Homo sapiens: one gene and its partners. The protein of the gene in region 1 purifies or fractionates together with the protein of each later gene. This does not show direct contact. Each region holds a gene or a part of one and is shown in the gene's direction. Other genes may lie near its edges. The genes, in order: SSX3, NCS1 and C10orf88.

The links.
Region 2: the proteins of SSX3 (region 1) and NCS1 purify together in Homo sapiens (affinity purification with mass spectrometry; one large-scale study listed by BioGRID and IntAct). This does not show direct contact.
Region 3: the proteins of SSX3 (region 1) and C10orf88 purify together in Homo sapiens (affinity purification with mass spectrometry; one large-scale study listed by BioGRID and IntAct). This does not show direct contact.

What each region holds. Positions count from the first base shown.
Region 1 is NC_000023.11:48,350,195-48,353,849, reverse strand, and holds part of SSX3 (protein SSX3), read left to right. Parts: intron 1-1,700; coding exon 1,701-1,750; intron 1,751-3,655. UniProt on the Homo sapiens protein: Could act as a modulator of transcription.
Region 2 is NC_000009.12:130,220,798-130,224,452, forward strand, and holds part of NCS1 (neuronal calcium sensor 1), read left to right. Parts: intron 1-1,852; coding exon 1,853-1,941; intron 1,942-2,284; coding exon 2,285-2,362; intron 2,363-3,655. UniProt on the Homo sapiens protein: Neuronal calcium sensor, regulator of G protein-coupled receptor phosphorylation in a calcium dependent manner. Directly regulates GRK1 (RHOK), but not GRK2 to GRK5. Can substitute for calmodulin. Stimulates PI4KB kinase activity.
Region 3 is NC_000010.11:122,947,624-122,951,278, reverse strand, and holds part of C10orf88 (ATPase PAAT), read left to right. Parts: intron 1-2,423; coding exon 2,424-2,630; intron 2,631-3,655. UniProt on the Homo sapiens protein: ATPase that regulates mitochondrial ABC transporters ABCB7, ABCB8/MITOSUR and ABCB10. Regulates mitochondrial ferric concentration and heme biosynthesis and plays a role in the maintenance of mitochondrial homeostasis and cell survival.

The sequences.
Region 1 (3,655 bases):
AGGTCATTCATATAAAATTTTAAAACATGCAAAAGAAGAATATATATTTTTATGGATAATAAGTAAATGGTAAATGTATACAAACATGAATGTGAATAAAAAGCCATCAAACTAAGGTGACTGGCTGTAAGTGGAGGAGGGAGGGAGGGCAGGGATTGCTGAGTGCTGCACAGACAGCTTCAGCTGTGACTTGTTGATAGTGTGTTTTGTTTGTTTTTGTTTTTGAGATGGAGTTTCACTCTTCTCGGCCAGGGTGGAGTGCAATAAGGCAATCTCAGCTCACTCCAACTTTCACCTCCTGGGTTCAAGTGATTCTTCTGCCTCAGCCTCCCGAGTAGCTGGGGTTACACGCACGTGCCCCCACACTCAGCTCATTTTTTAATTTATGGTAGAGACGGGGTTTCACCATGTTGGCCAGGCTGGTCTCAAACTTCCTGACCTCAGGTGATCCACCCGCCTCAGCCTTCCAAACTGCTGGGATTACAAGTGTGAGCTACCACGCCCGGCCTGTTTGCAGTTTTTCTAATATTCTGAATAAATAAATCAGACCTAACTTAGCTGTGGGGTAATGTTGAGATCCGACTGGACTCAATATTATTCCCCATACTTTTCTGTGTGTTTGAAATATTTCTTTTTTAAATGACATGTTGTTCTTCCTAAGCACTGTTAATGTATCAAAGGACAGTTAAGAAAATGTTACAAGTGAAAAAAAAAAAAAAGAAAGAAAGTGTTAAAACTGTAGATCCGCCAAAAACTTCCAGAGGTTGTTTCATTAACAGCATGTAGGTATTGGATAGGTATCTTAGGAGTGAGGTTGATGAACACATTATGTAATAAAGATCGCTGTTTCTCTGTATTTTATCAAAACCAAATAGTCTTCTCATTCCCAAATAACCCTGATTCTCTGTGATGAGCTTGAAAGAGAGTTTGAAAGAGTGATCCCTTATCGAAAACACAGAGAGCTTTCCCACTTGTCAGAGAACAGAGATAACATAGGATGAAAAAAAGACAGGTTCTTGGGTAGAGAGCTTTGTGCATTTCAGGAAAATAAAGGGGACATATGTATTTACTTGCTCTTCTACTCTGACAACATAATTATAAGACAAGGTCAGAATGTCCAAACCGTCTCCAATAGACCTATTACTCGCCAACTAAACAGGCCAGATTCTACAATCTCCCGCAATCACTATAAGAGATCTGAAAAGCCAGTGCTTGAGTATCTGCCAAGTTTTTAACGTTAAAGGACTGTCTTTGTACTGAAAATCTTTCAGAGCCACTGGACCAAATCATCCGTGGTTCACCACACATTTAACAGCTTAATTCACATACCATAAGATTCACCCATTTGAAGTGTACAATGATTTTCAGTTGTTGCACATCTTGAGTGGATACAGTTCAGATTCCTAACCAATCAATTTAATTATTTGGGAAAAAGTAAAAGATATGTAATCGAATAAGATGAGACTGTGATGGGGTGTAGTCCCCATGTGATAAACCATGAGATGGAAAATTCTGAATTGATGCCACAGATAAATGCATCAACCATGACTAAACATAATTCAGAAGCAAATCTGAAATAACTCCTCAACAATGCGTGGACTCATAAGCCTCTGCTGCAGAATACCCTGATGCGACAGAAGTCTCTCTAGAGTTTGGAAACCTTTACCAACAATGAAAAATTCTGATGTATTCTCTTTCAGTTCAACGTCCTCAGATGACTTTCGGCAGGCTCCAGGGAATCTTCCCGAAGGTGAGTATCTTTCAGATCTAAAGGACCAGAGAACCTTTGTCCCTCCAAGGATGCGAACACTGGTAAGAGTGGGAGAATATCAACAATGCCCTCACTGCCTTCTTCTCCCCATGTCTATCACAACACCTGATGTAGCACCGACGGCTTGATAGTACCAACATTTGTGATTGTTCATACCTCTTTTGTTTTCATAGTGATGCCAGATACTATTTCAAGCAGTTCACATGGATTAATTTATTTAATCCTTAAGAAGACATTGTTTCTATTATCTCCGAATAATAATGAGTAACACATTTCAGTTTTCATCCATATGATAGCCATATGACTTGGCACAAATCTTCTGAGTTCTCTGAGCTCCAGATTCCTGGTCCATGAAATGGAAGTAAAGAATTATAGTTTATGTTTTAGATCATAGTTATCAGCAACATAATAATAAAATGAGGCTATCGTGGTACAGAGATGTTAAAGAATTTTCCTGAGGCGCAGTGTCAGTGGTAGTCTAATCCAGAGCTCCAAGCCATTTAAAGCTCATTCACGTTTGCATTTGTTTATGAAGTTCAGATGTTGCTCACTAGGGCTTCACCCCATAGGGCCTGCTGGTGCTTCCATTGAGACACCCACTCTCGCAACAGGAAGGACCATCTGGTCTCTGCTGTGTTACTGGGGCCACTTGCATGGCTTAGGAATCGCTTTGATTGTTGGCCCCTCCCTACTGTGAGCTCCTTGAGTGCCTTGTCTGCACCTGGGGCGTCTGGGAAGCCCCAGTCCCAGCCCAGGGGATCCCTCGGAGGCCCCTGAATGAGTGATCCCACAAGTGCAGATTCAACTCTGGTTTGGAGGGTAAAGGGATCTGGGAGTTGGGTTGCCAGTGTGGAGACTGAATTCAAAGAAGGATTGTGAAAGGTATTAATTGTTATTATTACTACATTTAAAGAGTGTTTACAAGCTCAGAGAGCACTTTCTTGTAGCCTATTTTACATGTATGGTTCACTATTTCATAAGGGAGGAAGCTGAATTAAAAGTAGCTTAAGATCAGGGCGCGGTGGCTCACGACTGTAATCCCAGCACTTTGGGAGGCTGAGTCGGGCAGATCACAAGGTCAGGAGATCGAGACCATCCTGCCCAACATGGTGAAACCTCGTCTCTACTAAAAATACAAAACTTAGTGGGGCGTGGTAGTGCCTGCCTGTAGTCCCAGATACTCTGGAGGCTAAGGAAGGAGAATCGCTTAAACGCGGGAGTCAGATATTGCCTTGAGCCGATATCATGCCACGGCTCCCCATTCTGGCGACACAGCAAGACTCCGTCTCAAAAAAAAAAAAAAAAAAGAAAAAGAAAGCAGCTTAAGATTGTTGGTCAGTACACATCCCAATGCAACCAGAATTGGTATGGGTACCACCTCACTGAATTCCACATTCAATTGGTGCCTCGGTAGGGTAGTATGTCATATCTGGTACTGCTTTGTTTGCTGCCTAGATTAATTTCAGCAAGCCATTTATTTCCCTCTCCCTTCCTTGTGTTCATCTCCCCACACCATCTTTCCCAGCAGTGTTTTGTCGCCTCCCTATGTTTTTACATTTACTCTCCCAGCAGCTGTCTACAAGCTTATATGGGATCCCTTGTATTTTACAGAACCTCTTCCCTTTGTAGACCTTGTGAATTCTTAGAATGCTACTCTTCTCCAAATCATCTGTATATCACACTCTCAATTAAATGGAGATTTTTGCTGTTTGCAAGAATGTGAGTCCTAAAAGAGTGGGAAGATAAGCATTCTATCCCTGGAAACCATATTCACTTAGGCCATTCCTTTCCCTTCTAACCTCCCCTCCCAGGTTTCTCCTAATTTAGGCCTGTGTAACTCTCCCAGTGTTGTTGAGAACATTGAATAAGCTAATGCATGTGAAG
Region 2 (3,655 bases), on another chromosome or scaffold:
AAGCTCCTCCTCTCAATGCACTATTTTATTTTCTAATGTTGACTGTAGCAGGCCACACCATAATTGTGGGAGCAGAGTGGACTGTGGGGAGGAGGTGGGGGCTGGAGTTGGGGGAAGGAGAGGGGTGCTCCTCTGGGTAACATCCCAGGCCCCGGGCTCTCCCACGCACTCAGCTCCAGCCACTGATACCTCGGCCCTGGCAGCCCAATGCCCCATCCCTTTATTTTATTTGTTTATTTATTTATAGACAGAGTCTCGCTCTGTTGCTCAGGCTGGAGTGCAGTGGCACAATCTCGGCCCACTACAATCTCTGCCTCCTGGGTTCAAGCAATTCTCCTGCTTCAGCCTCCCAAGTAGCTGGGATTACAGGCATGTGCCACCACACCTGGCTAATTTTTGTGTTTTTAGTAGAAATGGGGTTTCGCCATGTTGGCCAGGCTGGTCTCGAACTCCTGACCTCAGATGATCCACCCACCTTGGCCTTCCAAAGTGCTGGAATTACAGGTGTGAGCCACCGTGCCTGGCCCTGTTATTTTTAATATATATATATATAAAATATTTAATATATATATAAAATATCATATATATATATATATATATATATATATATATATATAGAGAGAGAGAGAGAGAGAGAGAGAGAGAGAGAGAGAGAAAGAGAGAGTCTTGCTCTGTCACCCAGGCTAGAGTGCAGTAGTTCGATCTCGGCTTATTGCAACCTTCGCCTCCTGGGCTCAAGCCATCCTCTCACCTCCTCCCAAGTAGCTGGAACTACAGGCGCCCGCCACCACACCTGGCTAATTTTTGTATTTTTAGTAGAGAAGGGGTTTCATCCTGTTGGCCAGGCTGTTCTCCAACTCCTGACCTCAGGTGATCTGCCCGCCTCGGCCTCCCAAAGTGCTGGGATTATAGGGGTGAGTCACTGTGCCTGGCCCTGTTATTTTTAATTTATAAATAAATAAATATATATATACACATAAATATAAATTATGTATATATAAATATATATACATAAATATAAATTATGTATATATAAATATATATACATAAATATAAATTATGTATATATAAATATATATACATAATACATAAATATAAATTATGTATATATAAATATATATACATAAATATAAATTATGTATATATAAATATATATACATAAATATAAATTATGTATATAAATATATATACATAAATATAAATTATGTATATAAATATATATACATAAATATAAATTATGTATCTATAAATATATATACATAAATATAAATTATGTATCTATAAATATATATATGTGTGTGTGTATATATATATACGTATATATATATGTGTATATATATATACGTATATATATATGTATATACAGAGAGAGAGAGGGAGAGAGACTTGCTCTGTCACCCAGGCTGGAGTGCAGTGGCTTGATCTCGGCTTATTGCAAACTTCGCCTCCTGGGCTCAAGCCATCCTCCCACCTCAACCTCCCAAGTAGCTGGAACTACAGGCACCGCCACCAGGCCTGGCTAATTTTTGTATTTTTGTAGAGACGGGGTTTTGCCATGTTGTCCAGGCTGGTCTCGAACTCCTGGGCTCAAGCAGTCTGCTCACCTCAGCCTCCCAAAGTCCTGGGATTACAGGTGTGAGCCACCATGCCCAGCCTTATTTTTTTTAACCCTAGTTGCAATGGTGTGTGTGTGTCTGTCCCTGTCTATCCTGATGTAAATATTAGTTGACCTGATGAGGAATGGGCCATCCGGTCGCTGACTTCATGTTGGGGTACAGAGAGGAGGGGCGAGTTGAAGACCCCTCCCCACTGCCCCAGCCCAGGATCACTCAGCAGTGCTGCTTGCTTACAGGGGCCTTCAAGCTCTACGACTTGGACAATGATGGCTACATCACCAGGAATGAGATGCTGGACATTGTGGATGCCATTTACCAGATGGTGGTGAGAAGCCGGGTCTCGTGTGGTTAGGGGTGGCAGGAGGGGCAAAGCCAGTGACTGAGAGACAGAGAGAGAGCACTTGTGCAGCCATGCTCCTGCCCAGGGTGGAAGCAGGGGTCACTGGCTGAGCCGTTCTGTACATCTCTGCCTGGGCAGGCAGGCACAAGCTGGTAGATAGTGGGGCTGGGGTGTGGGATGTTCCAGGGCACAATGGCAGGGATGGGGAGGGGAAAGAAGAGGGGGGCGGCCCTCATCTGGAAACTGCCAGGTCTGGGGGGCAAATGCGTGGCCAAGAGCCCAAAGCCCAGAGTGCCAGGGCCCACCCCCGCCTTGTCCGTCCCTGCAGGGGAATACCGTGGAGCTCCCAGAGGAGGAGAACACTCCTGAGAAGAGGGTGGACCGGATCTTTGCCATGATGGATAAGGTGAGGTGGGGGGGCGGGGCTGGTCCTGGACCAGGGAGGCAAGGTGTCGGGGGCAGGAATTGGAGTCCCTGGATCCTGGGCCTGGCTTTGCTGCCAACCTCCTCCATGGCTCACGGCAGGCGGCACGGTGTCCTATCCCTGCTCAGCAGCTAGCCCCATCCAGTGTCCAGAGTCTTAAGTCAGTTTGCTCAGCATGTTTTCTTTAATCAACCAGAGTCCTTAGCCTTTTTTTTTTGTTTGCCATGGACCCCTTTGGCATTCTGGAGAAGCCTACAGACTTCTCAGCATAATGGCTTTAAGCGCATAAAATAAAATCCATAAGATCAAAAAGGAAGCTGATTATTTTAGAAAACAGCTGTCAGAGTATTTTAAAAAAAGAATCTGTGATGTAGCGTTCTGTGAGCTGCTTTCTTAACGCATTCACTAAGATGTAGTGGTGGGTCCAGCAACCCCCGAAATTGCGAGCTGTAATATCTGCAGCAACTAGGGTGTGTTATGAAAATACCTGTGATCCCTACTGTCGACAGATCACAGGTACTGCAGGTCCTGTTGGGGACCGTCGCCTAGGTTTCCATCAAAGGAAAAGCTACATTTCAGTTAGAGGTTAGTAAAAAAAGGCTGATTTTTTTTCCCCCAAGTTCATAGACCTGCTGACTTCTATCCACAGGCCCAAGGTTAAGAAACCCTTCTCTTTTTTTTTGAGACAGAATCTTCGCCCTGTCACCCAGGCTGGAGTGCAGTGGCGGGCGCGATCTCGGCTCACTGCAAGCTCTGCCGCCTGGGTTCACGCAACTCTCCTGCCTCAGCCTCCCGAGTAGCTGGGACTACAGGCGCATGCCACCATACCTGGCTAATTTTTTGTATTTTTAGTAGAGACGGGATTTCACCGTGTTAGCCAGGATGGTCTCGATCTCCTGACTTCGTGATCCACCAGCCTCGGCCTCCCAAAGTGCTGGGATTATAGGCGTGAGCCACCGTGCCTGGCCAAGAAACCCTTCTTTAAAGGGAACCAAAGCCAGGTGTGGTGGCTCACACCTGTAATCCCAGCATTTTGGGAGGCCGAGGCGGGTGAATCACCTGAGGTCAGGAGTTCGAGACCAGCCTGGCCAACATGGTGAATCCCTTTCTCTACTAAAAAAAAAAAAAAAAAAAAATCCGGGAGGCAGCAGTTGCAGTGAGTGGAGATCGCGCCATTGCACTCCAGCCTGGGCAACAGAGTGAGACGCAGTCTCAAAAAAAAAAAAAAAAATTATCCAGGCATGATGGCACATGCCTGTAATCCCAGCTACTCGG
Region 3 (3,655 bases), on another chromosome or scaffold:
TTTAAAAACTATATAAACTGTGATGGCAAAAACCCATTTATAAAAGAACAAAATTAGAGAAGTTTCAAGCAAGAGAACCAATAAGTTAAAGGGATTGGACTGTTGTCTTCAGCATGAAAAATATTGTTAAGGTAACTGTTAGTTATGTCTTCAGAGTCTAGGGATAAGGTAATGGATTGGAAGTCTTAAGCCCTGAATGCTAATTCAGTTCTGTCCTGACTAGTGGATTAGTCTTGGGCAGATTTTGGACCTATCTCATGGGTAAAATTAGAGAGCTGAAGAAAATTCTTGGATTCTTTTTATCTCTAAACTTCTGTACTTATTATCATTACTTATAGAAGATTGAAACCTATTTTTACAATAAGAAAAAATAAGTGATTTTTACAGGCAGATAGCAAACTCACAGGACTGATTATCCCAAGATGTTGTTTTGGATAGTATATATTAAATAGCTTCTAAAACCATTTGAATAAAGTAATTTCTTCATTCAACAAAGATTTGAGTGCCTCTTAATGTCAGGTACTATACCAGTCATTTAGGAATTAGCAATAAGAAAATAAACTGAAATGCCTGAACTTATGTTGCTTGTATTCTAGTGGGCAAGACAGACAATAAGGAGACTCAATGAGTAAAATAAATACTATATTTAATGGTGAAAAAGGCTATGGGGTTAAAAAGAGAAAGGGGGATAATAGAGAGGTTGAGAGGTAGGAGGTTAATAAGAGTGTTTCCTTAAAATGTTGAAGACAGTCACATCTTTGGTTCAACACTTAAGAGTTCTTGGATCATGAGTCTGTATTGACCTATGTCCTTGTTTGACATGTGGACCTGTGTGTCTCTCTGAAGGTGAATGTTTTTTTAACTGTTCAATGGAGGTACATGGGAGTGCAAAGGGTTATTTCAGGGAAGCTCTAGGATTGATATGAAAGCTTGTTCTGAGGCAATAGTATATGGAAGTTCAAATAAAAAAATGGTTACTTATACAGGTTTTTGAGCACTTACTTACTGGTAGCTACTGGAAATTTTAACATATAATCCTCGCAACAACTATGTGAAATCATTGCTACTGTCTTCTCTCATTTTTATCCTGACTCAGATTTAGCATTTGCCCAGGGTCACACAGGTTGTTAAGTACCAGAGTCGTAAGTTAAACTTAGGTTTGTCTGATTCTAAAGTCCGTTCCCTTTCCATTTTGCTACTCTGTTGTCTGTACCATACATGAAATGTCTCGTTTCAGAAATATGGACAGGATAAAATGTTGGATAAACTACAGGGATAGAAGCCAGAAGAGATAGGTTTCAAGCTGGTTCTTTACTAATTGAGTGTCCTTTAACAAGTTAGAAAAATCACCCTTGAAGTCATCATTTCTATGTGTAATCCAGCAAGCTATATTACATCATTTTGATATTCTCTTATAGTTCTGAATTTGAAAGGATTGCATTTTACTTATTTCAGTAAACGTTTTACATGAGCATTTGGACAGACTTATTTTGTGTTAAGTAGCAAGTTGTGGTGTGTTAAGGTCTCAGATTGGTATATAGCAGTTCTCCTTTATCTGCAGTTTCACTTTCCACAGTTTCCATTACCCACAGTCAACTGAGGTCCAAAAATATTAAATGGAAAATTTCAGAAATAAACAATTCATAAGTTTTAAATTGTGCTTCATTCAGCGTAGTGTGATCGAATCTCCTGCCATCCTGCTCAGTCCTGTCTGGAACATGAATCATCCTTTTGTCTAGTATGTCCCTGCTGTATATGTTACTGCCCATTAGCCACTTACTAGCCAAATGTATCATCAGAAGGTCAGTAGTAGCCTAATCCTGTATTACAATGCCTGTGTCATTCACCTCACTTCATCTCATTATGTAGGCATTTTATCATGTCACGTCATTACAGGAAGGGTAAGTATTGCACAGTAAGATTTAGAGAGAGGAGACCATATTCACATAACTTTTATTATGTTGTCAAAATTACTCTATTGTTAAACTCTTACTATACCTAATTTATAAATTAAACTTTATCATAGGTATGTATGTATAGGAAAAAATATAGGGGTTGGTACTATATGCAATTTCAGGGAGCCACTGGAGGTCTTAGAACACATTCTCCACAGATAAAGAGGAACTACTATAGTTTATTTTTAGTTCTTTAAATAGGTAAACATTTATTTAATCACCTCATTTGTTATTTTACATGAAGTCTTAATTTTTGAAAGGACTCTTATTTAAATAGTTCATCTGAGCCTCATGATAAATTGGAATTTTTCCTGACTATTGCTGTTCTAGAGAAAAGTTTAAAATATACTTGAAGTTAATTTTTAGATTCTTGAATACTTCACTCTTGTTTAGGTCATACCAAGAAGTTACATTAAATGATTATTGTTTTTAATATCATTCTTTTCTGGAACTTTTGTTTTATAATAGTTGCTCTCCTTTGGCGAAAGGCAGTGTGTGTTCATCAGTAAAGTTGTGGTACACATGAGATCAGTTTTTGCAAATTCTTCAACAAGCTCTCCTGCTCTAGGATCAAGGATAGACCTTGACAAGGTCCAAACCATAATGGAGTCCATGGGGTCAAAGTTATCTCCTGGAGCTCAGCAGTTGATGGATATGGTTAGGTGTCAGCAGCGGGTAAGTAGAAATGGATTTCTTTCCAGATAACATTAATGATTTCAAAACCATTGCTTTTAGTAAAGAAATGTAGTGACTTAAAATTTTTCTTTCATACTGATTTAACTGTTATCTTTTAGTTTTGTAGAAGTTAACATTTGTTAGATTTGCCCTTCTACAAAGTGTTTTGACTACACATTTTCACACTTTTTATGAATGCATTCATTCATTCAGCAAGATTTTTTTCTTGCAGTAAACAAGGCACTGGTTTGAGCAATTTTGAGTGTGCGAAGATGGTCAGTTAATCTGTAGTCTTTAAGAATTTTTACATTCTGGAGCATGTAAGTGGGGAATGATGAAAACACTAAGGAAAGGCTCACTAAAAGAAGTGGTATTTTATCTAGGCCTTTAAAATGTAGGGTGGGATTAGACAAGTAAATTTGGAAGAAGGCCATTTCAGACAAAAAATAAGGTGAATAAAATCTTCAATGCTAGAAGAATTTGATATAGCTGGGAAATGAATGGTAGTTCATTTCTCTGAAGCAAAAAAGTAATAGGCAAAGTTTAAAGTAGATTTCAGCTAGATCATAAACAGCTTGGGATGCTGGTTTAAATTTGTAGATGTTTTTGACTTATGTTTCAAGAAATTTTAAGCCACTGTCAAGTGTAAGGTGAATCTGAAGAAAGTGAGACTACAAGGAGAAGATGAGCTGCACGTCATTCCCCTCGTCCAGATGAGAGTGAATGAGGTCTAAGATTGGACGTAGTAACATAATGCTGGATGCTAAATGATGCTAAAATGATGGAGCCATTGGGACTTGACAGCTAACTTAATATTGGTATTATGATAGAAAAATCAAGTTAAACATGAAATTGAGGCTTTGAAGATGGTGATACTAATAATATAAATGCAGCCCAAAGGAGGAGGATGCTTGGAGGAAAAAGGAATTTAATTTTGGGAACATTGACTTTTAGCTGTGAATAAGACATTCCCTGGAAGGATGTTGCAAACATCTGGAAACAGAGGATTAGGAGAAATGGAATGA